Linked DNA regions of Homo sapiens. The protein of the gene in region 1 interacts with the protein of each later gene in a biochemical or structural test. Each region holds a gene or a part of one and is shown on either strand. Other genes may lie near its edges.

Evidence for each region.
Region 2: the proteins of RCC2 (region 1) and CORO1C form a complex in vitro, tested with the Homo sapiens proteins (one study listed by BioGRID).

The regions. Positions count from the first base shown.
Region 1 is NC_000001.11:17,436,564-17,452,857, reverse strand, and holds the start of RCC2 (protein RCC2), read left to right. Parts: upstream 1-13,180; 5' UTR 13,181-13,313; intron 13,314-14,321; exon of another isoform or gene 14,322-14,335; 5' UTR 14,336-14,343; coding exon 14,344-14,628; intron 14,629-16,294. UniProt on the Homo sapiens protein: Multifunctional protein that may affect its functions by regulating the activity of small GTPases, such as RAC1 and RALA. Required for normal progress through the cell cycle, both during interphase and during mitosis.
Region 2 is NC_000012.12:108,721,904-108,737,517, reverse strand, and holds the start of CORO1C (coronin-1C), read left to right. Parts: upstream 1-5,999; 5' UTR 6,000-6,089; intron 6,090-6,674; exon of another isoform or gene 6,675-6,895; intron 6,896-15,614. UniProt on the Homo sapiens protein: Plays a role in directed cell migration by regulating the activation and subcellular location of RAC1. Increases the presence of activated RAC1 at the leading edge of migrating cells.

The DNA.
Region 1 (16,294 bases):
ACCCATGTCCTCACCAACTGGTCATGAGACCCAAGAGGGAAGATGAATGTGCTTTGTAAACTTGAAAGCATCTTACTGATGTGAGCCGGGACCTTCCTCATGTATTATTTTTAGCTGCTTTTTCTGGTCTAAAACAAGATTTTTTTTTCTGAGACGGAGTCTCGCTCTGTCGCCCAGGCTTTAGTGCAGTGGTGCGATCTTGGTTCACTGCAACCTCCGCCTCCCAGGTTCAAGCAATTCTCTGCCTCAGCCTCTGGAGTAGCTGGGATTACAGGCATCCGCAACCATGCCCAGTTAATTTTTGTATTTTTAGTAGAGACGGGGTTTCATCATCTTGGCCTAGGTGGTCTTGAACTCCTGACCTCGTGATCCACCCACCTCAGCTTCCCAAAGTGCTTGATTACAGGCGTGAGCTACTGAGCCCGGCCGATTTTTTTTTTTTTTTTTTTGAGACAGAGTCTCTGTCGCCCAGGCTGGGGTGCAATGGCGCCATCTCAGCTCACTGCAGTCTCTGCCTCCTAGGTTGAAGCGATTCTCCAGCTTCAGCCTCCCGAGTAGCTGGGACTACAGGCACAAGCCACCATGCCCAGCTAGTTTTGGTATTTTTTAGTAGAGACAGGGTTTCACCATGTTGACCAGGATGGTCTCAAATTCCTGACCTGAAGTGATTGTCCTGCTTCGGCTTCCCAAAGTGCTGGGATTACAGGCATGAGCCCCCACAACCAGCTAGAGCTGGGAATTGAACCCAAACAGTTCCAGAGCTATCTCTTGCTCTAGTCCACACTTTTCAGCTGCCCCAGAAGGGCCCTGCTTGAGACTGTGGGGTCACCTGTGCCCATCCCTGCTCTGTGAGTCATCTTGAAACCCCCTCTGTATCAGACAGGTTGCCCAGACATCCCGAACACCCTGTTTTGGACAGACAGCATCAGGTGGTGATGGTATGGGACGAAAATGCTTCTGTGTCAGCCAAATTCCCTCCTTCCCTCTGAAGCAAGGAAGGGGAACCAGCTCAAGTCTCGAGAAATTTAATGAGGTTTGGTAAGGAATGCACTCTTTTGAAAAATGCGTGCATAATAACAGTGATTTAAACCGCCGAGAAGATGAAAAATAATGAGTGGTTTCGTTGTCAGAGTGGCAGGGACTAAGCCACAGCCTCGAGGGCGTGGACACATGGTTCCCCTCCATTCGATTCAGACTTGGAGACAGCTCAGCTTCCCTGGGTCTTAGTTTTCTCATTCCTCAAAGGAAGGATTGGATTCCAGCTAAAAATGATACTTTGCAGGGCAACTAGTGGACACAGAAATGACTGTCTTGGCCCCATGCAGTGGCTCACACCTGTAATCCCAGCACTTTGGAAGGCCGAGGCCGGTGGATCACGAGGTCAGGAGTTCAAGACCAGTCTGGCCAAGATAGTGAAACCCCATCTCTACTAAAAATACAAAAATTAGCCAGGTGTGGTGGTGGGCACCTGTAGTCCCACCTACTCGGGAGGCTGAGGCAAAGAACTGCTTGAATCTGGAAGGTGGAGGTTGCAGTGGACCGAGATCACGCCACTGCACTCCAGCTTGGGCGACAGAGCGAGACTCCATCTCAAAAAAAAGACTCTTTCCTACATATAGGCCAAGATCAGGCTCCCACCAGCGAGGTACATCCTCCTTTGGTGCTGACTTCCTGCTTCCTGAGCCCCATAATCCTGCCACTGTCTGATGACGAGGTCGCACACTTGGCAACACTTTTTCTACTTTTTTTAAATTTTTTTGAGACAGGGTCTCATTCTGCCGCTCAGGCTGGAGTGCAGTGGCGCGAGCATAACTCATTCCACCTTCTGGGCTCCAGTGAGCCCCCTGCCTCAATCTCTTTAGTAGCTGGGGCTGCAGATGCACACCATTATGCCCAGCTAATTTTTTTTTTTTTTTTTTTTTTTTTTTTTTTTTTTTTTTTGAGACTGAGTCTTGCTCTGTAGCCCAGGCTGGAGTGCAATGGTGTGATCTCGGCTCACTGCAACCTCCGCCTCCCAGGTTCAAGCAATTCTCCTGCCTCAGCCTCCTGAGTAGCTGGGATTACAGGCACCTGCCACCATGCCCAGCTAATTTTTGTATTTTTAGTAGAGACGGGGTTTCACCATGTTGGCCAGGCTGGTCTCAAACTCCTGACCTCAGGTGATCCGCCCACCTCGGCCTCCCAAAGTGCTGGGATTACAGGCGTGAGCTACCGCGCCCAGCCTGCCCAGCTAATTTTTAAATTTTATGTAGAGACAGGATCTCCCTACGCTGCCCAGGCTGGTCTCAAACTCCCAGACTCAAGCAATCCTCCCACCTTGGTCTCCCAAAGTATTGGGATTACAGGCGTGAGCCCCAGTGCTCCGCCTGGTAACACTTTCAAAGGCAAAAGGCTTTCTGTGGATTGGGACCCAACCTGTGTAATTCAATGCATGCCTTCAAGCAGGCTTGCTTTCTTGTACACTACCCAACTTTCCTTCATCATGGATTTTTCTAGACAGTCAGACGCCATGGTCCATCGTAGACTGGAGAACATCAGAGTTGGGAGGAGCCAGAAGCATCAAATCCTATTCCTCAAGCCAAGGTGGTTTGTGGAACCATCTTCCTCATTTTTGCTAGAGCTATGCAACACCTGAGTAAATGTCTTTCTTTAAATAAAAACATTTTCTTTTTTTTTTTTTTTTTGTTGAGACAGAGTCTCACTCTGTCATCCAGGCTGGATTGCAGCGGTGACAACTCAGCTCACTGTAACTTCCACCTCCTGGATTCAAGTGATTCTCCTGCCTCAGCCTCCTGAGTAGCTGGGATTACAGGCATGTACCACCATGCCCAGCTAATTTTTGTTTATTTAGTAGAGACGGAGTTTCATCATGTTGGCCAGGCTGGTCTCAAACTCCTGACCTTAAGTGATCCACCCACCTTGGCCTCCCAAAGTGCTGGGATTACAGGTGTGAGCCACTGTTATCTGGCCCTCTTTTATTTTTTTCTAAGTTCACATCAAATGGGTAATGTGCTGATGACTTAACAAGGTTTGAGGGAGGCACATTCAACACATGAACATGAAAACTCAATCACTTTTATGAACCACATAAGTGTTCATGATCCAAACACTTATTTTATTTATTTATTTATTTATTTATTTATTTATTTATTTATTTATTTATTATTTTTGAGATGGAGTCTCACTCTGTCGCCCAGGCTGGAATGCAGTGGTGCGTTCTCAGCTCACTGCAACCTCCACCTCCCAGGTTCAAGCGACTCTCCTGCCTCAGCCTCCCCAGTAGCTGAGATTACAGGCATGCACCACCACACCCAGCTAATTTTTGTATTTTTAGTAGAGACGGGGTTTCACCATGTTGGCCAGGCTGGTCTCGAATTCCTGACCTAAGGTTATCCACCCACCTCGGCCTCCCAAAGTGCTGGGATTACAGGTATGAGCCACCTCGCCTGGCCGAGATTGTCTTTTAAGATGATGCCTCTGCGTGACACTCAAAGCCCACAGAACCATGTGTTATTCACTCCAGAGGCCCTTCTGTTTCCAGCCTCAGAACCAAGACCTCTGTAGAGATAGCAAGATAAGGAGCAAGCAGGAGTCCTAACAGGAGGGGGTGTTTAAGGAGAGGCCAGTGGGGACAGTGGAATAAGTGTAGGAATGGCTTGGGTGGAACCCTGAAGTTAGCGGCAATAAATCTCAGCCTCTGAAAATAGATGAGGTGGGCCAGGCATGGTGGCTTACGCCTGTAATCCAAGCACTTTGGGAGGCCAAGGTGGGCGGATCACCTGAGGTTGGGAGTTCAAGACCAGCCTGACCAACATGGAGAGACCCCCATCTCTACTAAAAATACAAAATTAGCCTAGCGTGGTGGCGCATGCCTGTGGTCCCTGCTGCTCGGGAGGCTGAGGCAGGAGAATCGCTTGAACCCGAGAGGCGGAGGTTGTGGTGAGCTGAGATCACGCCATTGCACTCCAGCCTCAGCGACAGAGTGAGACTCCCATCTCACACACACACACACACACAAATTAACAACAACAAAAAGAAAATAGACAAGGTGGCTCATGCTTGTAATTCCAGTACTTTGGGAGGCCGAGGTGGGAGGATCACTTAAGTTCAGGAGTTCAAGATCAGCCTGGGCAACACAGCAAGCCCTCATCTCTTACTAAAAATGAAAAAATTAGCCGGGCACGGTAGCACACGCATATAGTCCCACCTACTCCGGAGGTTGAGGCTGGAGAATTGCTTGAGCCCAGGAGACTGAGGCTGCAGTCCAGCCTGACAGACAGAGTGAGACACCATCTCTAAAAAAAAAAAAAGAAAAGAAAAGAAAAAGAAAGAATGGGTTTTCAGATTCTGACTTCACCACTTCCACCTGTGAGACCGTGAACAAGTTTCTTAACTTATGTCTTGGCTTCCAGATCTATAAAATGGACTGTTAGGGGATGAATACGTCCCCCCGAGTCCATATGCTGAAGTGCAAACCACCAGTATCTCAGAATGTGGCTGTACTGTATTTGGAAATAGGGTCTCAAAAGAGGTAATAAAGTTAAAAAGAGGTCATTACACTGGCCCTAATGCAATGTGACCGGTATCCTTGTAAGAAAAGATGAGGACACAGACACACTCAGAGGGAAGATCACGTGAAGACAAGAGAGAAGGTGGCATTTACAAGCTATGGAGAGAGGCCACAGAAGAAACCAACCCTGCTGACCCCTTGGTCTTAGACTTACAGCCTCCAGAGCTGTGAGAAAATAAGGTTCTGATTTTAAGCCACCCTGTCTGTGGTACTTTGTTATGGCAGCCCTAGCAAACTAATACGGGGACCCACAAAAGTATCCGTGTTGCATGGATGTTATGAAGATGAAACCAGCTTTTTACGGGGAGTGCCTGGCCCAATGTCTGGCGCAAGGTAAGAGCTCAGTGCACACCAGAGAGAGCATCTTGGTTCTATTTAAGAACTCCTCTGCTTCATCTAGCTGACTCAGGCCACTTAGTGAATGTGAAAATCAGACAGTCCAGATATTTGGCACTGCAGGGACTCCCCACGGGATCGATTTCTTCATTTTTCAAAAGGTTATTATGCTTTTGCATGACATGACGTGGCCTGAAATGCAATGATTCCCAGCCACCAGGGCCACCTGATACATTAAACAGGCGGCACTCCTTCTGGCCTTGTCATTAACCTTCCCGGCAAATGACACAGTTCTGCAGCTGGGCCCAAAGCCTTGGTTTTTCTCGTCCATTCCAACTCTCATGGTTCTTGACCTCACCCAAAAGTCGCCCACCCGCTAGGCTTCATTTCGCAATCGATGCTGGATGAACAGCTGTAGGACCTGCACTTTGTTTGTGCCTCTGTCTCTTTTTCTTTTTGAGACAGAGTCTCACTCTGTCACCCAGGCTGGAGTGCAGTGGCATGATCTTGGCTCACTGCAACCTCCACCTCCCAGGTTCAAGCGATACTCTTGCCTCAGCCTCCGGAGTAGCTGGGATTACAGGTGCCTGCCACCACGCCTGGTTAATTTCTATAGTTTTAGTAGAGACGGGGTTTCCCCATGTTGGTCAGGCTGGTCTCTAACTCCTGACCTCAGGTGATCTGCCTGCCTCAGCCTACCAAAGTGCTGGGATTATAGGCGTGAGCCATCGTGCCTGGCCAGCCTCTCTTTTTCTAATCTCATGACTATACATCCATATTGCCCACTGGCAGGGGAAGATGGAATCTCTGCAGAAGTTAGCTTTTATTTGCAAGCTTAGGTGAGGGATAGTCTTAGAAAATGACTGGAGAGCCTTTATTTATTTATTTTTTTGAGACTCAGTCTCGCTCTGTCACCCAGGCTGGAATGCAGTGGTACTCTTGGCTCACTGCAATCTCTGCCTCCCGAGTTCAAGCGATTCCCCTGCCTCAGCCTCCTGAGTAGCTGGGACTACAGGCACGTGCCACCACGCCCAGCTAATTTTTTGTATTTTAGTAGAGATGGGGTTTCACCATGTTGGCCAGGATGGTCTCAGTCTCCCGACCTCATGATCCACCCATCTTGACCTCCTGAAGTGCTGGGATTACAGGCGTGAGCCACCGCGCCCGGCCGACTGGAGAGCTATTGATTACAGACCAGCTTTACAAATTGTGGCTCTATCTCAAGCCAGGAACACAACATGAATGCAAACACTCCTGCAGATTGGGAGCGCCGGTGGTTACAAACTAACAGGCAGACATTGATGAAAGTGATTTCGATCCTGTTTTTCCTGAAAAATTAGATTTAACTCCCAAGGTGTGCTCATTTTCATTTCAAATTTCTCCTGTACTAAAGGAGGAAGAGCAGGCCCAGCTGATGGCAAAACTGTGAAGTGGTTGCTTACTCCTTCAGATGCAGGCAACAGGGGCTGCAAAAGCGTGAGCTCCTCCAACCCTCAGGAAGAGAAGTGGGTGCACCAGCTGCCAGGCCCGGGGCAGTGTAGAGGGTCAGTAAATATCTGTTGAATTTCCTTAAGTCTTCATTAGGCCAGTGTATTAGTCCGATTTCACACTGCTATAAAAATACTACCCAAGACTGGGTAATTTATAAACAAGGGAGGTTTAATTGACTCACAGTTCAGCATGGCTGGGGAGGCTTCAGGAAACTTACAATCATGGCAGAAGGGCAAGCAGGCACCTTCTTCAAAAGGCAGCAGGAGGCCGGGCGTGGTGGCTCACTTGAGGTCAGGAATTTGAGACCAGCCTGGCCAACATGGTGAAACCCCATCTCTACTAAAAACACAAAAATTAGCCAGGTGTGCTGGTGTGTGCCTGTAATCCTAGCTACTTGGGAGGCTGAGACAGGAGAATTGCTTGAACCAGGAGGCAGAGGCTGCAGTGAGCCAAGATCACTGCACTCCAGCCTGGGCAACAGAGTGAGACTCCATCTCAAAAAAATAAAATAAAATAAAAATAAATAAATAAATAGCTGGGCGCAGTGGCTCACGCCTGTAATCCCAGCACTTTGGGAGGCTGAGGTGGGCTGATCACGAGGTCAGGAGATCGAGACCATCCTGGCTAACACGGTGAAACCCCGTCTCTACTAAAAATACAAAAAATCAGCCACGCGAAGTGGTGGGCGCCTGTAGTCCCAGGTACTCGGGAGGCTGAGGCAGGAGAATGGCGTGAACCCAGGGGACGTAGCCTGCAGTGAGCCAAGATCGCGCCACTGCACTCCAGCCTGGGCAACAGAGCAAGGCTCCGTCTCAAAAAATAAAAAAATAAATAATAAATAAATTAATAAATAAATAAAAACATGACATTTGGGTGGGGACACAAAGCCTAACCACATCAGCCAGCTTGGTGAGTCTTGGTATTCTGCATCCTGGACCTCCTCACCCTGGACTAGATGCATCTTTTTTTTTTTTTTTTTTTTTGAGACGGAGTCTTGCTCTGTCGCCCAGGCTGGAGTGCAGCGGCGCGATCTCTGCTCACTGCAAGCTCCACCTCCCGGGTTCATGCCATTCTCCTGCCTCAGCCTCCCGAGTAGCTGGGACTACAGGCACCCGCCACCATGCCTGGCTAATTTTTTGTATTTTTAGTAGAGACGGGGTTTCACCGTGTTAGCCAGGATGGTCTCGATCTCTTGACCTCGTGATCCACCCTCCTCGGCCTCCCAAAATGTTGGGATTACAGGCGTGAGCCACTGCGCCCAGCTAGATGCATCTTAAAGTATGAGAAACCACCTTTTGAATGGCTTCCACAGGGTATGGAAAAGTGGTATGATTTCAGTAGCACTTCTCATACTTTTTTTTTTTTTGAGATGGAGTTTCGCTCTTGTTGCCCAGGCTGGAGTGCAATGGCGCAATCTCCGCTCACCACGCCCGGCTAATTTTTAGTAGAGACGGGGTTTCTCCATGTTGGTCAGGCTGGTCTCGAACTCCTGACCTCAGGTGATCTGCCCGCCTCAGCCTCCCAAAGTGCTGGGATTATAGGTGTGAGCTACCATGCCTGGCTGCACCTCTCATACTTTAAGATGCATAAAAATCACCTGTTAAAAATGCACATTCTGGGCCGGGTGTGATGGCTCACGCCTGTAATTCCAGCACTTTGGGAGGTCGAGGTGGGTGGATCACCTGAGGTCAGGAGTTCGAGACCAGCCTGGCCAACATGGCAAAACCCCGTCTCTACTAAAAATACAAAAAATTAGCTGGGTGTGGTGGCAGGTGCCTGTAATCCCAGCTATTTGTGAGGATGAGGCAGGAGAATCGCTTGAACTGGGAGGTGGAGGTTGCAGTGAGCCCAAATTGCGCTACTGCACTCCAGCCTGGGCAACAAGAGGGAAACTCCAACTCAAAAAAAAAAAAAAAAAAAAAAAACACATTCTGATTCAGTAGGTCTGGGGGCTGAACCTGAGATTCAGTGTTTATTTTTATTTTTTTGAGACAGGGTCTCACTCTGTCACCTAAGCTGGAGTGCAATGGCATGATCATGGCTCACAGCAGCCTGGACTTCCCAGGCTCTGGCGATTTTCCCACCTCAGCCTCCAAAGTAGCTGGGACTACAGGTTTGCGTCACCACACCTGACTAATTTTTTTCTTTTCTTTTCTTTTATTTGAGAGAAGTCTCACTCTTATCCCCCAGGTTTGAGTGCAATGGCTCGATCTTGGCTCACTGCAACCTCCGCCTCCCGGGTTCAAACGATTCTCCTGCCTCTGCCTCCCAAGTAACTGGGATTAAGTTGCCTGCCACCACGCCCGGCTAATTTTTGTATATTTTAGCAGAGACGGGAGTTTCACCATGTTGGCCAGGCTGGTTTCGAACTCCTGACCTCAAGTGATCTGCCCGCCTCGGCCTCCCAAAGTGCTGGGATTACAGGCGTGAGCCACTGCGCCTGGCCGCGGCTGGCTAATTTTTTTCTAATTTTTGTAGAGATGGGGTCTCACCATGTTGTCCAGGCTGGTCTCCAACTCCTGGGCTCAAGCAATCGTCCTGCCTCAGCCTCCCAAAGTGCTGGGATTACAGGCGTGTACCACCACGCCTGGCCAGATTCTGTGTTTCTGACAATCCTCCTACTGATGCAGATGCCTGTACACTTCCTGGCTATCCTATCTGCCAGCTGTGTGGCCTCAGGAGGCCTCAGCATCTCCCTGGGCTTCAGTTCTTCCGCTGGATATTATTTAGATGAACAAACATATATTGACAGCTTACTACACGCCGGGCTGCTCTGGGTGCTTGCTAGAAAAACAAAGATGAAGAAGCCACAAGCCAAGCCCAGGCATGCCTCACAGACAGAGAACTTAAAGGTCCAACTACAATATTTAAAGACTCTGCGTTTGAAAATTTCATGACTCATTGGCAGAAATAGGACGACCGGATCTGCATCTCCCAGAAAACATCTCTCCAAACACTATGACAGGGATTCCCCGCTGACTACTGTCCTCAGAATCAGGGAATACGAAATCCAGAAGTAACCTCAAGAGAAATTTAGCCCAAACTCTATCTTGCCATTTTACAGAGAGGAGAAACTAGAGAACAGATGCAGAAAGAGTGGGGTCTGGAGGAAATTACTGGTTTTCCAGCTATGCTTTCGAAGGCTGTGATGTCCAACAGGAATAACATATGAGCTACAAAAAACTTAATATGTAATATTAAATTTTGTGGTAGTCACATTGAAAAGAGTAAAAAGAAGCCAGGCACAGTGACACATGCCTATAATCCTAGCACTGTGGGAGGCCAAGGCAAAAGGATTGCTTGAGGTCAGGAGTTTGAGACCAGCCTGGGGAACATAGTGAGACCTTGTCTCCACAAAAAAATTTTAAAAATTAGCTGGGCGTGGAGGTGCACGTCTACAGTCTCAGCTACTAGGGTGGCTGAGGCAGGAGAACTGTTTGACCCCAGGAGGTCGAGGCTGTAGTGAGCCAAGATGGCGCCACTACAGTCCAGCCTAGGTGACAGAGTGAGACCCAGTTTCCAAAAAAAAAAAAAGAGAAAGAATCGTTTCCATTGGTTAGCGCATCACTCCCAGGATCACTGGTTTCATTTTTATAGACACTGGATCAGAAAATTAATCTTTCAAGTACAGGTGTAGCTTTCTGTAGCCAAGTTGAATAGAATTACACTTCTGAGGCTGGGCACAGTGGCTCACGCCTGTAATCCTAGCACTTTGGGAGGCGAAGGCGGGCAAATCACGAGGTCAGAAGTTCAAGACCAGCCTGGCCAACATGGTGAAACCCCGTCTCTACTAAAAATACAAAATTAGCTAGGCGTGGTGGTATGCGCCTGTAATCCCAGCTACTTGGGAGGCTGAGGCAGGAGACTGCTTGAACCTGGGAGGTGGAGGTTGCCACCACTGCACTCCAGCCCGGGTGACAGTGCGAGACCCCACCTCAAAAGAAAAAAAAAAATGAATTATACTTCTGAGGCTGTGCACAGTGGCTCACCCCTATAATCCCGCAACTTTGGGAGGCTGAGGTGGGAGGACCACTCGAGACCAGCCTGGGCAACAGAGAGAGACCTTGTCTCTACAAAACATTAAAAAAGAAAAAAAATTTAGCCAAGTGTAGCTGTCCATGCCTGTGGTCTCAGCTACTTGGGAGGCTGAAGCGAGAGGATCGCTTGAGCAAGGAAGGTAGAGGCTGCAGTAAGCTGGGATCATACCATCACCCTTCAGCCTGGGTGCTGGAGGAGCAAGATTCTATCTAAAAAAATAAAAAAAAAAAAAAAAAAAAGAAAGAAAAAATCACACCTCACCCCTGGAAAAGAACTTAAGCGTAGCTGAATCTAACTTGCAATATGATTTTGCTGAAGATGAGGTTAAAGAGTGACGGCAGGCTGGCACTTGCAGCCACATTTCCAAAATTCTGGGTGTAAAATGCTCAGCACAGTGCCAGACACCTGTGCCTCAAAGTGTCAGAGAAATCTCAGCCACCTTCTTTCCCTTCCCCTCTCCCGGTTTTGCACCAAACCATCCTGTCCCTGGAGAATTTGCTCAATTAGAAGCGAGGTGAAATTCCAAGCACAGTTTGAAGGAGGAAGTGTCATTTTCAGCTTGCCTGTAGGTGCACCTCACTATGTAACATTTGTTACATAAGTGGCAGCATGACACGCCTAACTGATGAATGTCTGTTGCACACCCAATTCCAGCCGGGAGAGTCACGCAGGCTTTCCCTGGGAGAATAGTGGTGTGGAATTGAGGCATGGAGTTGCAAAAATTACTTTTGTCTTCTGACAAGTAGGGCCAGTTCCAGGGTGTTATACCCAAAGTGCTTTTCTACTGCAGCATAACCTCAAGAAAAACCAGTTTCAGGAGCACCACACCTAGGATCAGATGATGCAATATGATATTAGCGTCTCATTGCATCAGTGTGTCTGAGGCATGAGTCTTTTAAGCTGGCAAAAAGCATTATAAAGGGGCAGGAGAAAAAAGGAAAAGACTTGCAGACTGAAATCTAAAGGTACTGTCAGTGGTGTTCCTAATTGGCCACACAGGGTGTTTAGAGGATAAACACCCAGCCACCCGCCTCGGCTGACAAGCATCAGCATGCCATTTCCTGAAGGGGACTTGATGGCATATTTAGGCGAAATTCTTTTCTGGTTGGTTCTACTTATGCTTTATATCAAAGCGTCAAAGTTTAACCTCTAAAAAATCTTTTTAAATGCAGGTCTATTAAGAATAGGCTTTCAAAGGGTGCTTCTATTCCATCTTGACTTTTCTGAAAATCTCTGAAACGTACCAGTTGATTTCTCATTTCCAAAGTTCTTTTACATAAGCACTCTCAGCTCTCTTGACACACAGACTTTTGACTTTGATCAAATACCTTAGATTTGGGCCTCTTGGTTTCTCTGTCTTCCTTTACAGGACACTTGATGCTTCCCAGTCCTGTTTCTTGCACTAACAATGAATGAATGAATCACAAAAATCCTAGAACTTTATGCGTTTTCAAGAAGTTGCCTGAAGAAGGAACTTCCTTGTGCGGTACGCCTCAGGAAAAAAGAAGCAGGAGAAAAGCTTTGAGAGGAGAGCAAGTGACGGTGAGATCGTAATGGAAGTGGGGTGGAGAGGTGGAGGGTGGAGACCGGTAGGAAGCAAGCAAGGCTTTTTTCACCCGTCCCAGGACACGCGAACGAGATCAAGCCTCACTGCGGTTCACTAGGGTCTATGCAGGCCCTCGCACCCCTGCCTACCTCCTCAGAACCCAGCCTCTTGGCTCTTCTCACCCCAGCCCCACCAGACAGCTTCCCTCCCAGGAGGTGTCTCTCAAGATCTCGAAATGTGGAGCGTCCCGTTCACTCCACCTGGCCTGGAATACTTTTCCTGCCCCCTTTCATCGGGTCTTATTCATCCTTTAAGTTGTTCAGCATAACTTTCCACCTGAATGCCTTCCCTGGCCCTGGACTAGGATAAATCCCCTCGCCATAATGTTCCTACACAGGCATCACTTTGTAAAGCTTACCACTGTTGTAATTACTTGTTTACTGATCTGTCTTTCCGTTAGGCTGTGCGTTCCACTGGGGTGGAAACCTTGTTCACTGGCTCTGCAGCCCCGGGCACTGTGGGTCTTGCATGTACCGGGGGCTCAGTAAATATTTGGCAAAAAATGAAAAAGTTCCCCTCAAAGCCAGCTTCCAGTGCCTCCACGGCCCTCAAATTAATTATGAATTAATTCACTAATACAGCAAACCTTTATGTGATTCTTCCGTGTCACAGCACCTTGTTACATACTGAGGACACATCCACAGGCAAATAAAACTCAGCTTCTCTCTGCACAGGAAAAAATTATTCAAATTGTATTCATCTTTCATTCCAATCACTCAATTAGGGCACGTCCCTTGTTGGCTGCTGCGTGAGCGAAGTAACTATTTTCCAGCGAGTGTCCTCATGTGACCTGTCTAGACGTGCCCAGGAAAAACAATCCAACATCCTCCTAAGCCGCAAAGAAGTCCCTGACGCGCAGGCCGCACTGCGTGGAAGGCCCAAAGCGCGCTCGCGGGCCCGCGAAAGGCGCAGGAGCAGCGGAGCCGAGGCGGGCGGCGAGGCGCGCGGCGCGCGGCGCAGGCTCGGGTGGGCAGGGCAGGGCCAGGCCGGGCGGGGCGGGGGCGCCGGCAACGGGTCCGCCGGCCGGCAGGGGGCGCGCGCGCCCCGCGCCCCGCGCCTCCCGCCCCGCCGCGCGCTCGCTTGCCGCGCGGCCGCACATGTGTTTCTGTTTTGTGTTGTAGCATTTGTTCTGGAAGCTCGTATTTACATTTTAAGTGTATCTGGTGAGTGGGCTGGAGCCCTCGTCTGGGCCGGAAAAAAAAAAGCCCTCCGATCCGTCTTTTAGTTGCTTCTCTTCCTTTTTTCTCTCCGGTTTCTCATCACTCCAACCAGGTAGGGTCTGAAAATCGACAGTGATCAGTTTGTGGGGTCTGGGAAAGTTTTTTTTTTTTTCCTTTTTTTAAAGAGAAAAGGTTAAAAAAAAACCTGGGGGAGGGGGGCTGGGTGATTGAAGGAATAAAAAGAGGAAGGAAGGCGGATCCACGTGGTTTAATCGGAGACAGACAGAGATCCCATTGTTCAAAATCAATTAAAAAAAAAAAAAAAAGCAGACAGGGGAGAGCGCAGGGACGCCGGGGAGCTGGCGGCGGCCCTGGACACTTTGCAGTCGAATCGGAGACCGGCCGGGCCGCACGGCCGGCAAGGGGGCTGGGAGAGAGTTGGGCACCATTAAAGTTTTTATTTTTCGTGTCTGTGCGAGCAGGTGTTTGGGGCTGGGGTCCAGCTTTCTTCGGGCTCTTCCCCCGTCGCCGGGGGCAGTCCGCCGTAGGGATTCGGCTAACTAGAGCCCGAGGTCGGCACCCCTGAGCTGGGGCCGAACGGGGGTCCAGGGCTGATGCGGGGTGGGGGAGAGCGTTGCATTAAATGCCATGAGTGGGTTTGGGGGGAGACTGCGGAGACAAAAGCAGCAGGTGGGGTAGCCGGGGAGCAGGGGCTCCCTTACCACCCAGGTGCCAAGGGGGAATCCTGGAAGTGTCCCGAAGCCTTCTTTAATGAAAATCTAGGGGACTGGAGGCTGGTTTTACTTTCCCTTTACTTTTGGGGGGCGAGGTTGCAACTGTGATGCTTTGTGGGCAAACCTAACTTACGGATAGGCCGGGGGTCTCAATTCTCCCTCCAGGGGATTGCCTCTGGGGCTCCCGGCTGCCCTGCGGGATTCCCCGAAGGAGCCGCGCCGGGGCCAGGGAGGGGCGCGATTTCCTCTCCCAACTCGCCCCCTCTCCGCCCACCCTGCGGCCGCCACTTTGGGGAGGGCAGAGGAGGAAGTGGAGGCCGGGTGGCTCGTCTCCGCTCCCCTCCCCCCGCGCAGTTTATAACCCGTCCATTGTGCGCCGCTGCCCCGTGTCTCCCTCCAGCCGCGACCATGCCCAGGAAGAAGGCGGCGGCGGCGGCCTGGGAGGAGCCGAGCTCGGGCAACGGCACTGCCCGCGCCGGGCCCAGGAAACGCGGCGGCCCGGCGGGCAGGAAGCGCGAGCGGCCCGAGCGCTGCAGTAGCAGCAGCGGCGGCGGCAGCAGCGGCGACGAGGACGGCCTGGAGCTCGACGGGGCCCCCGGCGGGGGCAAGCGCGCGGCGCGGCCGGCGACAGCAGGCAAGGCGGGCGGCGCGGCCGTGGTCATCACCGAACCCGAGCACACCAAGGAGCGCGTCGTGAGTGAGGGTCAGGGTAGACGGGTGGGCGCAGGGCCGGGGCCGGCGGGCTCAGCGACGCGGCACGGCGCGCGTTCCAGCCGGGGGCCGCCTCGCGTCACGCTCCCTCCCGGCGGCCGGGCCGGCGCAGGCCGCGGGCTGAATCATTGCCTCCGCCTCCGCGCAACAAAAGGGCTCGGTACGGGGCGCGCGGCCCGCGGCCTACCCGACCCCGGGCACCGCGCGGGCGGTTGGCGGTTGGGGCGCGCGCCCGGGCCCGCGGCGGGGGAGGGGCGGCCGAAGCCCGCACGAGGGGGTCATGGCCCCGCCCCCACAGCTCCCTCTGCGCCCCTCCCCCCCCGCCCCGGGAAAGGGGACCTCGGTAAGTTCGCCCGGCCTGGAAGAGGGGGCGGCCAGCGGGCCCCACACGTCCGTGGCCGCCGCTGCGCCCGGGCGCCGCGGGGAGGGGGCGGCCGGCGCTCTGCGGGGAGCGGCCGTTTGCGCCGGGGCTTTGAGGTTCCCGCCGCCTCGGCTCCGGCGCCCGGGGGGGGCGGGGCCTGACGGCCGCCGCGCATGCTCCGCAGAGCCCTCCCCCGAGGTCGGGGAAGCCCCCCGGCTGAGCGGTGCTCGGGCTTTGTTTGCCGCCGGTGGTCCGAAGCTGCAGGATGCTCGCGAGGGCTCTGTTGTAGCCCCCCCAAGTGAAGAAGCATCTCCTAGGGTCCTGGGCGGGCTTCTGTTTTCTCAAATCTTAATTAAGGTCGTGGCTGACTCAAGTTAACGTTCCCGAAAAAGCCTGCAGAGCCGGAGATCTGAACCCGGCATCTGCCGCCACAGCATCTCCCCACCCCCACAGAACTTTCTTTAAGTTTGGTGTGGTGTGGGATATGTTTTTCAGAAGAGGGTCTAAGTTTTCACCAGATTCTCAGATAACCCCCAGAGAGCAAGAACTTCCACCTGGGGTGTAGAGCCTGACACCCGGAGAGGTTTTTTTCCTTCCATAAGTGCCCATCTCCTAAGGGTGTTTAAGGGTTAACAGCAGAGTGCTTTCCTCCAGAGAAGCGCAGGCAGTGTCTAATAACACATTTTCTACGTCCGTTTTATAGATAGGGAAACTGGGGCACAGAATTCGAGGGCCTTGTCCAAAGTCATGGATGGAACTGGATCTCCAAATGCTGTAACTCCTGATGTCCCTGCAAATTGCACATGGGAATATGCTTTGTAAAAGTGCCTTCTGGGTGAAAGGGTTAACATGTTAGGCAGTGGAGGAGAGCCCGTCAAAAGCTGTCAAAAGGTCTTGCCCGGGGTCTTGGATCAGGCTAGACTAGACAATGGCCAAAGTATTGAGAAACTGGAACACAGGAACTGTTTTCCTTTGACGTCTAGTCTGCTGTGCCAGACTCCAGACATTTGCCCTCCGAACACAGTATGTTAGGATGAAACTAAAAAGAAAGGCCAGGTGAGCTTCCGCGTCTCCTGTATCCTATTTTGAGTGAGTTTCCAAAAGCAAGATTGTGTTTAGACATCCAAGACTGCAGTTATCAGCTGTACAGCTCCAGACTGTTGGAACGCTGAATTTTGCCATCAGAGCAAAAGATCCTTACCCCATGCTGAGATTGACCCAAGGAGGTAGAGACAGGGAGTGTGTGAGGGACACTGGCTCTCCCTGGCCCACCTCTGTCTCCAGCTG
Region 2 (15,614 bases), on another chromosome or scaffold:
AAAATACAAAAATTAAATGGGCATGGTGGTGGGTGCTTGTAATCTCAGCTACTTGGGAGACTGAGGCAGGAGAATCACTTGAACCCAAGAGGCGGAGATTGCAGTGAGCTGAGATTACGTCACTGCACTCCAGCCTCGGTGACAGAGCGAGACTCTGTCTCAGAAAAAAAAAAAAAAATTTTTTTTAAAATAAATAAATAGCAAATAAGAACATGAAAAGATTTTGAACATTATTAACCAACAGGAAAATGCAAATTAAAACCACAATGAGGTATTACTCTATACCTATCAGAATGGCTAAAATAAAATATAGTGACAACATCAAATGCTGACAAAGATGCAAAGAAACTGGCACTCATAGATTGCTGGTAGGTGGGGATGTAAAATGGGTCAACCATTCTGGGAAACAGTTTGACAGTTTCTTAAAATACTGAACATACGACTACCATATAACACAGCAATTGGACTCCTGGGAACTTTTCACAGAGAAATGAAGACGTACGTTCACACAAAAAGCTGTACATGAATGTTTATAACGTTTATACCAGCTTTATTCATAATAGCTCCAACCTGTGTCCTTCAATGGGTGAATAGGTCAAACAATATGTCTTTCAATGGGTGAATATTTAAACCGTGGTGCATGTGTACCATGGAACACTACTCAGCAATAATAAGGAACAAACTACTCACACATGCAACAACCTGGATGCATCTCCAGAGATTTATGCAGGGTGAAAACAGTCAATTCTAAAAGGTTACATACTATATGATTCCATTTACATGACATTCTTGAAATGACAAAATTTTAGAAATGTAGAACAGATGAGTGGTTGCCAGGGCTTAAGGAGGGGATGGATGAACGGAAGGTGGAAGTGGGTGTGGCTATCAAAGGGAACATGAAGTATCCTTGTGGTGATGGAAATATTTTCAACATCTATATTGACATTGACTGTATCCATGTCAATATCCAGGTTATAATGTACTACAGTTTTGCAAGATGTTACCACTGGAGGAAACTGCATAAAGGGTACATGTGATCTCTCTTTTTTTTGTTGTTATTTTTCGCTAAATTTTTTGTAGAGATGGGGTTTCACTAAGTTGCCCAGAGTGGTCTCAAACTTCTGAGCTCAAGTGAGCCACTTGCCTTGGCCTCCAAAGTGCTAGGATTACAGGCATGAGCCACTGTACCTGGCCCACACATGATCTCTCTCTCTCTCTCTCTCTCTCCCTCCCTCTCTCTTTTTAATGAGACAGAGTCTCGCTCTGTCACTCAGGCTGGAATGCAGTGGCGTGATCTTGGCTCACTGCAACCTCCACCTCCTGGGTTCAGACAATTCTTGTGCCTCAGCCTCCCAAGTAGCTGGCATTACAGGCGCATGCCACCACTCCTGGCCTCTTTGTATTATTTCTTACACTTGTATGTGAATCTGTAATTATCTCAAAATTACAATTTTAATTTTAAAAAAGGCATTTGTCTGTAGCCTGTCAATCATTCAGTATTTTTCCAGTCTCTATTTTGCAGAAAGAAGTACCCAAAGTGGTGAGAATGAAGATTTATCAATGTAGAGTGAATTTTAGTGCTCTTCAAATTTTGTTGTCTTCTATCGCTCAATTAGGGGTCTTGTCTACTGAGATTACTCTAGGGACTTCCAGTCTCATTTATTTAATAATATTATTATTTGTTAATGCTTCCACAGGGTAATTCACTGAGCTTCTAGGTTGCCCTAGCAACCTAAAACAAATGTCCCCATTTGGTACTCAGAAAAAATAGAAAAATGATTTGCTAAGGAGCCTCTGGATGCTGGGCCCACAGTTCTTTCCACTTCATACATAAGCTGGCATCTATATCATGTGTGGTCTGGAATCATTTTTATTTTTCCTGATCATTAAATTCCTCTCCATCTAGCACCTGTCTTAAGCCACTTTAGAAATCACCAGCTTTTGAGAGCAGGAAAAAACTCTTAAATCCAGCATCTCACCTGGACTTGGATCCCTCCCTTTAGGGCCAGCTTGGACAGAGCCAAGGTTTCTTTCAGGCCCACAAAGCAATTGCTGTAGGTTCAAGAACAATGAGATGATGGGGCTTTCTCCCAGCAGAGTTATGCAGTTTTCCTGTTTCTGGAAGTAAGCAGCTCTCAGCTGACCACATTTGGGATAGGCATGGAGTGAAAGTGAGGTGGCATTGCTTCTGGCATTGGGTGCTTCCTGTGCAAGAATCACCTCCTCAAATGCAGGGCTCAAACCAGGAACTGAAAGAGGCAGTCAGAAGATGAAGGCCTTGGGATCTTTCGTAGCATATTCCATGGCTGCTTTTTGGCGGTATCATCTGGCGGGGGGAATTCTTCTAATTTCATCATTATCATTTCATCACTTCTAACTTCATCATTTATCTATGATCTCATGGAACCCCAAGATTTTTTTATTTTTATTTATTTCTATTTTTTTTTTCAGAGTCTCACTCTCGCCCAGGCTGGAGTGCAGTGGCGCTATCTAGGCTTACTGCAACCTCCACCTCCAAACTCGAGTTCAAGCAATTCTTCTGCCTCAGCCTCCCAAGTAGCTGGGATTACAGACGCGTGCCACCATGCCTGGCTAATTTTTGTATTTTTAGTAGAGACGGGGTTTCATCATATTGCCCAGGCTGGTCTCGAACTCCTGACCTCAAACAATCCGCCTGCCTCAGCCTCCCAAGTGCTGGGATTACAGGTGTGAGCCACCACTCCTGGCCGGAACCCTGTGATTTTTAAACATCAACATGTTTTAAAACAACTATTTTGTGCTGGGCACTGTGTTGGGTGCTTTGCCACGTCCTAATTCATTGAATCTAAACTCCTGAATATTCAAAACCACTTCCTGAAGCATTTACATGATTCCCAGTGATATATAGGCAGAAGAATAGGGCTCAGCTCAGAGGGGAAGTGACTTGCTGAACGTCACACAATGAGTAATAGGTGGAGCCTGAATTTAAACCTAAACCGGCCAGAATCCAAAGTCCACGGTTTTTCTGTTCTGTCATGCTGCCACAGAGGCAGTTTAGTGTAATGACTAACTGGCTAAGGGTGCAGGCTCTGCATTTAGATGGATGTGGGTTCTACGTGGTTCAAGCCATGTGACTTGGACAAGGAATTTAACTTCTCTGAGTCTTCAGTTTCCTCACCTTTATAGGTGGGGATTAGGAGTCCCTTCTGGGCTGGGTGTGGTGGCTCATGCTTGTAATTTCAACACCTTTGGGAGGCCAGGAATTTGAGACTAGCCTGGGCAACAAAACAAGACCCCATCTGTACAAAAAGTAAAAATATTAGTGAGCAAAGTGGTGTGCACCTGCAGTTTTAGCTGCTTGGAAGGCTGAGGTGGAAGGATTGCTTGAGCCTGGTAGTTCGAGGCTGCAGTGAGCCAGATGGAGCCACTGCTCTCCAGCCTGGGCAAAAGAGTGAGACCCCGTCTCAAAAAGAAAAAAAAAAAAGAATTATTTCTGTGGCCATAGGATTGTTGAGCAATTTCAGAAGATTCTGCATGTAAAGCACTCAGATAGTGCCTAGCATGTCTAAGTGATGGATAAATGTTAGCAATAATCTGTTTCCAAAGAATAAGCTAGCTTACTCCGTGGTTTCCAGTTGGAACTCGGCCGGACGCGGTGGCTCACGCCTGTAATCCCAGCACTTTGGGAGGCCGAGGCGGGTGGATTACAAGGTCAGGAGATCGAGACCATCCTGGCTAACATGGTGAAACCCCGTCTCTACTAAAAATACAAAAAATAAGCCGGGCGTGGTGGCGGGTGCCTGTAGTCCCAGCTACTCGGGAGGCTGAGGCAGGAGAATGGCGTGAACCTGGGAGGCGGAGCTTGCAGTGAGCTGAGATCGCGCCACTGTACTCCAGCCTGGGCGACAGAGCAAGACTCCGTCTCAAAAAAAAAGGAACTCAAAGCACTTTACCAATCTTCATTTTCCCCAAAGCACTCAGAACTCACTGCTATCAATGCCCCTGTTTAATTTATTAACTAGTGGATTTTAAAAAAACAACTTTTATTGTTCAAAACTATTGAATTGTGGGCACAGTGGCTCATACCTGTAATCCCAACACTTTGGGAGGCCGAGGTGGGAGGATCTCTTGAGCTCAGGAGTTTGAGGCCAGCCTGGGCAACATAGCAGGACTTCATCTCTACAGAAAAATGTTAAGAATTTAGCTGGGCATGGTGGCGCGTGCCTGTAGTCTCAGCTACGTGGGAGGCTGAGGTGGGAGGATTACTTGAGCCCGGGAGGTCCATGCTGCAGTGAGCCGTGGACTGCCCCACTGCACTCCAGCCTGAGCGACAGAGCAAGACTGTGTCTCAAACAAACAAAAACAAGTGAATTGTTTTTGAGCCTCACCATATGGCAGGCACTGCAGTAGGCGTTTCATCACGTTTATCTCATTTAAATAAAGTGAGTGGCAAATCTTACTGCAGGAAGGGTGCTGAATTCCTCCTATTAGGAGTGGCTGCTTGAAGGCAAAATAAAACCCATCCTTTCATTTTGTTGAGTCCCAGCAGTAGCAGCAACAGGTACTGTCGAGCGTTTATCACAAGCCAGGAACTCTTCTAAGTATATTACTATTATCCTGGTGCAAAAGTAATCGCGGTTTTTGCCATTCCTTTTAATGGCAAAAAGTAATGCCACGATCATGGCTGCTAATATGATCTCATGGAACCCTGTGAGGGAGGGGCTGTTATCCCCATTTTACAGATAAAGAAACTGACCCTTAGAGAGGATAAATAATTTGCTGTGATAGCTGTCTTAGTTCAGGTCAAGCTTGATTTAAATAACACACGTTTCTGAGGCTGACGCTTAAAATAAAAAATCCCCCTGTGAATGGCAAAGATGCCTTGCTTTGGGAAGTAAATAGCCCTACCCCACAGTCGGTTCGGTTCCCCAGGCTCTGTTTCCTCAAATCTCGGTATTTCAGAGCTTGGTGTTTCAGAAAGGGACTTTAGCTATTAACAGGACAACTTCTTCATGCTGAAGATTAGGGGACTCAGGCCCAAAGAGGTAAGAGAACTGTCCCAGGTCACACAGTCTGACGGCCGCAGAGCTGAGGCTCAAATTCCCGTGCTCCGACTTTCAGGCCTGGGCCGCCGAGTTATTAAGGGACTCTGGCCAGGGAAAGGAAGGGAGGAACCCTGAAGTTTCCATTCCCTCACCTGCGAAATGGGGTCAATCACGGGCCCTCTTTGGGGTTACGTGGGTGTGGCCCAGCCCAGGGGCGGCCACTCTGCACTAGGAATGTGACAATGGACGGTTCAGGGAGGGCTGGAACGTCGGCAGTCCTCAAGGGAGGTGGTGGTAGGGTGTGACGGAGCCAGGGCGGAGCCTCGGGAGCCAGAGGCGTGGATTCGCGAATTCGGGGCGGGGCTTGGGGTTTAAACGTTGAGATGGGGTAGTGGGCGGGGCTTGAGATGCTAGGAATAGGGTTGCGGTCCTTGGGCGGGGCTTCTGGAAGACGGGGCGGGGCTTTGTGAGGCCGCTGGGCGAGTTCTGAAGCAGTGGGAGGGGAGCCGGGCTTAGGGAAGCAGGAGGCTGGTTTAAGGACTCGGATAGGCAGTGCGCGGGGCTCAGAGGAGCTAATGTTCCTGTATTGAGGGGCTCTGGGGGAATCTTTGAGGAGCCAGGGGACGTGGCCTTGCAGAGCCTAGCGGGTCAGTGGGCGGGGCTCTAAGAACCCCGCTCCGGGGTCTAAGGAGCAGTGGGCGTTGCTCGGAGGCGCCTGTGGGCGTGGCCCTCTACCACTCAGATGACTGGAGAGCGGGGCGTGCGCTTGGGCACCGCCTGCATCCCTCGGTGCGACCAGAGGGGGCGTAGCGAGGCGTGGAACGTGGGGTGGGAAGCGGGCTTCCCCTCCGGAAGTGGGCGTGGCGCACAGCGGCCCGGCAGCCCTGGTTGGGTCCCGCGCGGCGCGGGGGCGGGGCCTACGCGCGGTGGCGGGGGCGGTGGCGGCTGCCCGCGCCCCTCCCCCGCACGGCGCTCAGTGCCAGGCTGGAGGCGGCAGCGGTTGGAGGCTTCGCCCGGCTTTGCAGCGGGGACTTCGGCGGCGGCGCCTCAGGCACCTCGGCCCGGGTGAGCGGCTCGCGCCCGGCGGGGGCAGCCTGAGAGCGAGTCGGGCGGGCGGACCTGTCCTCTGAGCATGTGCCTGCGCCGCCTGACAGGAGCCGGCGGGGCGAGGGGCAGGGCTAGGTGGAGGGGACAGTGCTGGGTGGGCGCGCGGGGCGCGGGTTCACGGGCTGGGTTGCAAGGGGTTAGGGCCGGGGGCTGCTGTCGGGGGCTCGGGGAAAGGGAGTTGGGGACCGAACCAGGTGGCGTGGGGAGCGTGAAGCAGGGTCCCTGTGGGGAGGAGGCTTTCGAGGTCCGGAACGCTCCTGGCCGGGTGCGGAGCCGCGGGCCGAGGTGGGACGAGGCTGCCCAGGGAAGGCTTTTAGGGGTCAGGGATCGCCTGCTTGGGCGAGGTGCTGGGAGGGAAGGGCTGCTTCGGGCGAGGCGTAGAGCCCGGGGGCTCCAGGCCTGGGGACTGGGTTTGGGCCGCCCCAGGGAACGAGTGGGTGGGGGCGGGTAGGGGCCGGGCTCACGTGGGGCCGGGGCGAGCTGGGCCCTGCGTCGGGAGGGGCGAGGGCGGCCGCCTGGCCTGCGGGTTTCCTGGCTTTGGGTGCGAGACCAGCTCTGGGCCCTGCAGATCTCGGTTGGGGGTCAGGCGGGGCGGGGCAGAGCTGGAGCTGGAGTAATGTGGGTGGGGGCGGCTTGGGAAGAGGCTGAGCCCGGCCAAGGGAGCAGAGGGCTGGGACTGGCTGGGGGTTGGGAGGGGAGGAACGAAGCAGGAAGGCTGTCGGATCGGGGGCCCAGGGTGTCCGAGTGAACTGGGTGATTCAGAGGTGTGTTTCCCTAATAGCGGGGCAGCTGGCGAGGGACGCAGTAAAAAGGAGCGAGGTGCAGGTGGGGCCCCGCTGCGCCGAAATGACTGAGGATGAGGTCAGACGTGGAGGGTGGGAATGCAGAAACCGAGCTCTCCCGCCTGTCCCCACCGGCGCACGCTCCCCAGCTCTCCGTCTCTCAAATGATTTGAATGTGTTGGGGGAAGTGGCAGGCTGCGGTGAGAGCTGAGAAGAAAGGGGCTTCCTCTTGGAGGGAGGCGCTGGCCCTGGCATCCTTTTTTGGGAGTGTTCAAAGGATTTTGAACGCTGGAAAAGGAATCGTAGGCTTTACTGCATCACGATTTAGAAACACATCCTATATTTGGCCGTAATGTAGGCTGCCCTTGTTTTGTGGTGTCTAAAGTGCTTGCTCTACATGTTGCAAACGTGGGATTCAGAGTGCGAAGCAAATTGCAAGTTGTTCATTTCCCCCGGCATGGTAAGATACAAAGGCTTTTCCCTCCTATAAGACATTTGAAAAGAATTGAATGTAGTGCGCGTTTAATAAACTGGTCCTGGGTGGCGAATATATTTACTTTTGGAAATAGTTACCACAAAATATTAGGCCCTCTTACCGCAGCCTTTCTGCCTGGGATTACATTCTAAAACAGTACTTGTAGGGCTCTTAGTCACTCTATATAATAATGCATCTCATTGTCCTTATCTGGCAGAACGTTCTCCTGACACCAGGGCCTGCTGGAATAGACAGAAACATGATTAAGTATAAGCAGTTGCTTTGTACCGTCTGTTCAGTTGTGAAGGCAAATAGATACCTGTTTAATATTAATTCACTTTCTGCATTCCCTGTAAAACTGAAGAAATGTGCAAAATCTATTTTGGACTTGGTTCTATACATTTCAGATGATTTAAGGAAACTAGTATTTTTGGTTTGGAGGTATGTTTCACAGTCATAATGTTTGGCTATGAAGCATAATAGTAAACATTGGATCTGAGAAATCGCATAAATAAGTAGGGAAAAAAGTGAAATAAAACTGAGAATTGTGTTGTACCTTAGGTCTTGAAGTGCAGTGTTTCGTGGTGGAGGTTAGTCGTGTGTACTGAGGATTGGACAAAGATTTGGTATAAACGTCAGGAGCACACATTTTTGACAAATATAGAACCTATCTTGTCCATATTTATTTTGATTACTTGTGGAAGGTACATTAAAGCCTGATGAATTTTAATAGATACATACCGATGAAACATAACTGCACACAATATTGACTTTTTCATGATCCTTTGTTACTTTGCCTGCAGATTGTGCTAATCAGCATTTATACTTATTTATATATAGTTTAGGATTAGATTCGGTGTCAGTGAATAGCATTTTTTTAAACACCGTTGGATTTTTTGATAAAAGTTTTATGTTTAACTTATCTGTCACTTCTGGGATCCACTCCAACCATGAGGAAGAGAGTCACTCTAACGACTATGAGATGGAATGTTCAAAAGGATGAATATCAATTCTTAGTTATATAAGTGGGTATGTCGACGAGTCTCTTCTTTATGATGGCAAAATTTTAATTTCTCATATTTTGATTTGTCACAAACTGGTACTTTAGAAACATATTATTAATTGGTCTGTTTTACCTTTGACCTCTTTTCCAGGGGTGGGGCAATAATAAATTTGAGAGCTACTTGCATTTTCAAGGTACAAATCCATGTGATAAAACCTCTTAAGCTTGTTTTCCATTTATGACTTCTCTGTGTTACTGTCTCCTTGAATTATGAAAACTCTTTTCTGACACTTGTATGTCTTTTTAAACTTAAGATACCTTTTCTGTATTAAAACAGAATTCTTCATGAATATTTCAGTATGACCTAGTACCTAGAATGTTAAGTAATAGAATCTCTCTGGGTTTTCTTTGCCCTAGTTCAGATCCTTTAAAGTGAGTGAACAAGATTCTGTACTCCTTTCTGAGTACTTTGTATTTCTAGAGTGCAGAATGGAACTTTTTTTGTTTTATAACAGCTTCATTGAGACATACTGTACAGTTCACCCGTTTAAAGTGTACAGTTCTGTGGTTTTTGGTATATTCACAGAGTTGTGCAGCTGTCACCACAGTCAATTTTAGAACATTTTCATCCCCCCCAAAAAGAAACCCCATACCCCTTAGAAGTCCTCCCGTTTCATGTAAATGGAATCATACACTATGTGGTCTTTTGTGTCTTGCCCTTATTTAGCATATTTTCAAGGTTTATATGTGTGGTAGTATTGTATAGTACTTCATTTTTTTTTTTTAATGGTCAAATAATATTCCATTGTTTGGATATGCCGTATTTTGTTTATCCATTCATCAGTTGATGAACATTTGGGTGTTTTTCCTTTTTGGCTATTATGAATAATGCTGTGAACATACGTTTTCATTTCTCCTGAGTATTTACCTAGGAATGTAATCGATGGGTTGTATGGTAACTCTATATTTAACTATTGGAGGAATGGCCAGACTTCTCCAAAGCAGCTGCACCATTTTACGGTATTCACCAAGAGTATATGAAGGTTCTAAATTCTCCACATTCTTGCCAACACTTGTTACTCTCTGACTTTTTGATTCTAGTCATCTGTGTTTCCCTAATGGCTAATGATGTTGAGCATCTTTTCATGTGGTTGGTGAACATTTGTATGTGTAATCTTTGGAGAAATGTCCATTCAAATGCTCTGCCCGTTTTTTAATGGGTTGTCTTTTTATTGGTGTTATAAAAGTTGTTCATGTATTCTAGATTCAAGTGCCTTATCAGCTGTATGATTTGCAAAAATTTTCTTGGATTCTGACATGTCCTTTCATTTTCTTGATGGTGCCCCTTTTTAGGAACAAAGATTTTAAATTTTGATGATTTCCAATTTATGAATAGTGGGGTCTTACTAGTTAGAAATTAGACCTTAAACCACACCCTCCTCAATATTTTGGTTATATAAGTTGAAACCCAAATGTGAGAGGACTGGGGAAAGGTTTGAATTAATATATTTTAAGGTATGCTATAGATGAAAAAGGATTCATCAGGGAACATGCCATTCACCTGTTCAAATCCTCTGGTGACCTCACCTTTACCCACAAAATAAAGTTCAGACTCCTTAATGAGGTGTGGAGTAAGGTGGGCTCTGATTTCAGCCTGCTTTATTTCTCACTATTCCCCTTCCAATGTCTTCATCTCTAGTGCCACTCCCTGAAACATCCCAGCTTTCAAATCTTGTGATGAATTTATTACTTCATCGCCTTTCTACTTCTAGAATCCCACTTGTCCTTTGGGACATGGGTCATGAGGTTTTTCCTCCATGAAAACTTCCTCATCTCACAGGCAGACATTTGTCCCTGCCCTCATGTATTGTACATTCATCAGGACTGTTTGCTACAAAGAACTGGACCTGAATTTGAGCTAATAGTCTGAAAGGTGCCTTTCCATACAAGGCAGAATGCAATAGAGCAATTCACATGGAAGGCAGACTGAGATTCTCTTGTTCATGGCTTGGTCATTAGTGCCTACTGGATATTCGCTGAATGAATGATTGTTTATTGAAGTTAACTGGAAAGATCCTGAGGTCAGTGGGTTTCTCTGATTATCATGAATGTCTTTATTGCCTATGTTAAAATAACATGAATGGGGTAACTCCCTTTTGCCCTTCTGGCATCCAAGTCCAGCTCTTACCAAAAAGTGCTCAAATGTAAAACTGAGTGTTTAAAACATTTCCCCAATGGCAGAACATTCTCGTCCAGGTTCTTTCCCCCGATGAACAGTAATGACTGGCGCACAGTCTCCTCAGTAGGGTAGATGGCCAGCGAACACGATTTAGTCACACCAAATGCATACAGGCCGACCCTGATAGTATTTGGTCAGTTAGTACTGGAACTACCCCTGTCACACTCATGAGAATGGTTGTAAATTGGATTTTAAGGGTGTGTACTTTCTTTTCATTCTTTTTTTTTTTTTTTAATGTTTTGTAGAGATGGGGTCTCACTATGTTGTATAGGCTGGTCTTGAACTCCTGGGCTCAAGCAAGTCTCCTACCTTAGCCTCCGAAAGTGCTAGGATTATAGGCGTGATGCACCATGCCCAGCCTCTTCATTCTTTTGTTCATGCTCTCCTCTCTTGGGGTGTCTGACTCAAATTAGTATTCTTTAGTTATATTTTGTGTTCTTATGTTCATTTTTTTTTTTTTTGAGACAGAGTCTCACTCTGTCGCCCAGGCTAGAGTGCTGGAGTGCAGTGGCACGATCTCAGCTCACTGCAAGCTCTGCCTCCCAGGTTCACGCCGTTCTCCCGCCTCAGCCTCCCAAGTAGCTGGGACTACAGGCGCCCGCCACTACACCCGGCTAATTTTTTGGTATTTTTTAGTAGAGATGGGATTTCACTGTGTTAGCCAGGATGATCTCGATCTCCTGACCTCATAATCCGCCCGCCTCGGCCTCCCAGATTATGTTTATTTTTAAAATACTTTAATTAAAAATATTTCATGCCGGGCGTGGTGGCTCACACCTGTAATCCCAGCACTTTGGGAAGCTGAGGCGGGCAGATCACGAGGTCAGGGGTTTGAGACCAGCCTGGCCAACACGGCCAACCTGTCTCTGCTAAAAATACAAAAATTAGCCGGGTGTGGTGGCACGCGCCTGTAGTCCCAGCTACTCAGGAGGCTGAAGCAGGGGAATTGCTTGAAACCTGGGAGGCAGAGGCTGCAGGGAGCCTAGACTGCGCCATCACACTCCAGCCTGGGCGACAGAGTTGCACTCCAGCCTGGGCGGCAGAGAAAGAATCCGTCTCAAAAAAATAAATAAATAAATAAATAAATTCACTTAGCACCTTTCTGAGAATTAGGAGAAACCAGTTGGCCATTTCGGGATACCTTTTCTTTGTGTGTTCGTTAAAGCTTGGATTGTGGCAAGGTAGTACAGAAGAGAAAGAAAAATGTCAACTTTTTTGTCTAGTTAGGGACAGTGAGCTATGGGTACCTTCTGTAGTTCTCGTTCTAAGAGAGTTTTGTATTTAGGGGAACTGAGGCCGTGAGGGTGCAGGCCTTTAGGGCCAGATAGAGCTGGGCTTCACTCTTGGCTCCGCTTCTTGCTAGCTGTGACTTTGCCAGCTCCCTCACCTCCCTGAGCTTCACTTTCCTCCTCTGTAGTGTGGAGATGCAAAAGGCTTACCTTGCAGGGTCATTGGCAAGATTAAGCAAGGAAAATTATATGAAGTGCCTAATACAGAGTAGGTACTGAATACATTCCTGTTCCCTCTCTTCTCTCTTAAATGTCTGTTAATGAATGGAACTGCAGAGAAGCAAATAGAGTAAGTTTAATACATTTTACATCTGACATTAAGCTATTAAGGGTATGGATTCCTACTCCCACCTGAGGATTTTAGACTTTGAATCAAAGTTGAGTCACTGAAGAGGGCAAAAAATGTCTAATTTTAGGATGGGAAGGCGGTCTTAAAAACACCTCCAGTGTTTTTGCATCTGTCTGAATTGGAAATGTCTATTCAGACAGTCTTCTCTATTCAGGTCTGTGTATTCAGTCTCTCTGTCTGTGTGTCTGTCTGTCCATTTTAAGGAAAGTTCCTGGCAAAAGATGGATTTTTTTAGGATTTGAAGGAGATTGCACTGCAGTGCTTGAGATAACTCTTCTGGTTACAGTGTGATAAAGTGTAACATCCTGTGTGGGAAAAGAGCCTCTATAGTTTTATGGTATGTTAAATTAGGCCTGTCATTTGGATCTTACATTAATAACAAAAATACAGTTCCTCCCGTTTGCTGCAGTAATGAGTAATTAATATAATGCAAAGGTCAGAGTGAGAGAGACTATAAATGGGAGTAGGAAGGCCTATACATTGTATGTGGAAGGCAGTTATATTTTTTCCCCTTTGGTCAGGCAATGATCTACATTTCTTCTTAAAAATTTATGAATAATGGATTATATTTGGCACCAGTATCTCACCATCTTTTAAAGGATATATTATTTTGGGAGATTTGGGAGATTATTGCTCAGGTACAGAGGTCCTCATTCTTGACTGCCTTGTGATGATCATCTGTGGACCTATATGAATCCAGCTGCCTGGGTGTGAGTTCCCTGGTGACTCTGAATCACAGCCAGAACAGGAAGCACTGTGGGCTGGTCTATTCCTCATTTTACAGATGAGGAGACTTTGGTGGCAGGAGCTTGACAGATTTACCCAAGATCAGGAACTTAACTGCCCCTTCCTTTGTGTGGTATGAATTAATTTTTATAGTTAGTTGTGTGAATTTATAGTATAGTGTGGATTTTTTATTTAACAATGTGAACCTGACATGGCTTTCCCTTTGTAGTCTTTGACCCAGTGCAGCAGTTCCATTTGCTTAGCCTTTCGTCATGCTCTTTTGCCAGATCTGCAAACCAAGCCTATTCACGGAGTTTTCTTCAGTTAATCACCACAGTTGGTAGCATGTACCTATGTTGTTGTTGTTGTTGCTTTTTCCCACATATTCAGGTTGTGCATGTATTAAACTGTGAAGTTTGGTCCAGGTTTTTAGGAGGATTTTTAGATGCATTTTTAGGAAACTTGAAAATACATGATATCTCTTGGATAAACCTTTGGTAAACTTGATTTCTATTTTTAATGTAAAGCTCCTTGACAGTATTTTATTGATCCTTTTAAATTTCCTCAGTCTTATAATCTGAGCACTAGTAAGCAGTGGTTTTAAAGATTTGTCTTGTATTTGGAAGACCGATTATTATTGCAAAGGTGCCCTTGCATTGCATCTTGCCAGAAAAATTGGCATTAGTAGGCCGTCTGTATTTGAAAACACCAAGTTTAGACAGGAACAACACAGGCCCAGTACTGAACTATTAATATATAGATTGTAACAGACATAATGAAAACCACTTAGGATTAGCAAAGGTTGATTATTGTTTCACAATGTGGTTGTTCTGTCTTTGGGAAACCAAGACAGACTGCAAGTCTGGTCACATGGTGGTTTGGTGTAAGAGACTTTCTTGCTCCATTGTGGAACTGGGTGTGGGTCCCCATGTCTCAACAACTGCTGAGGCCTTCATTCTGGATGAACAAAGCTGTAGATTTTTCATGAGAGACCATAGTAGACACACATGGGAAAGGAAGTGTTAGGAGAGTGAAGCCGTCAGGCTGTATTTTCTACTTTTGATATCATAGGGGTGCATGACAAAATTCACAAGCATCCCTTCCTTATGACAAATGTTTAATCACCATTATTTGCTTACTTCACAGGAAAGATACTTAAATTCCTTTTCGTAATGGTCAAGCATTCTTTCCTAGTTAAAGATTCTAATTCCTTTCATTCTTAGGAACTTAAAGAATTGACTGATTTATTAACATAAAAACTCAAATGTGGCTGGAGTGGGGACTGAGGAACACACGTGAAAGTGCGCTGTCATCTCTGTTAAGCAGAGGGATTTATTAGGAAACTAGTCACTTTGGAAGCTAGATGGTGAATTAATTTTGTGGTTAGTAGTATCTTTAGCTTAACAATGTCATCCTAGTTTTTCTTGGCAAGCAAGAGAGAGGCTGGAGCCAATGAGGGCTGGCCACAGTTCTTTGGGGGTGATATTTAATAAGATGCACGTTGTCTGTTTTAGAAATAGAGTAACTGTCCTTTAGGCTCTCTCTTCTGTGGGCCACTGTTGCTTTACAGTGCTACTGTAGGAAAAGATAAGTTGGAAGTCTTCTTTTTTCTCCCTAAGACTGCTAGTTTGATCTTTTTATGCATTATGACAGTGTCTTGAGTGCAGTGGACTGAATTACTTTTATCAAGTAGAACAAATAACATATCATACCTTCAAAGGATGGTTATGAACTGTGTGTTTCTCTGAAAGTGAATGAGCAAGAGCCCAGATGAAATTTCTGTTTTGGAGGCAGGCAGTGTGTACATTTGGTCCCCAACTCAAGACTGGGTTGTGTTCCAGAGTCTAACTCAGTTATTTGGAACTCAGATCTACTAGTAGTAATTTCTATCTATTGTGTTGATTCAGCATTGTAAGTGGTGGGTACGTTCCCAGCCTAGACTGAAGGAATCTGTTTAATTCACAGCAGTTTTTGAAATTGTTTATGGTGATAGTGGAATTCTGGATCTTGGGAGCTGGTAGTCATGTGAAAGAGAAGTAAGGACTCATGCCCCATGCCCCAGGAGCCTCCCTGTGCAGGCTGTGTGGCGTCCAGGGGTCTCATGCCACTGCAGCCCTCCAGGTCTGTGCTGGCCCTCCTTGTTCTTCATCCTCCTTCATCTCTCTCTTAATTTGAAGCTTCTACTTCCCTGGTTAAGCTCACTTTCTTTAAATCATGGTAGCAAAGCACATGGTTCAAATTCATTTCCCTGCTAGACTACCGCTGTTATTCAGGGTTGGGATGACTACAGGCTTTATTCATGTCATTTCACTCATGTTCTTTAACCCTTTTAGAGGTGTACAATGTTAATATTTTTAAAGAGGAGGTTCCTTACTGATAAACAGATTGTCTCTTTGAAATGTTTGCATTCAGTCATTACAGCAAGGTTTCAAGGGGAAAGTTGAGCAGAGGCATGTGAAGTCAGGCAGACCCCACGTAAGGAGGCTAGTCCTGATACCTGGAATCAGGAAGAAACCATGCCTGCTTTAGAAAGGTTCTTCCTGTCACTCCAAAACAGTGACTCTGCTAAATTTTTTTCAAAATACTTTCTGATCTTTTTTTTTTCTTTTCCATTTGGGAA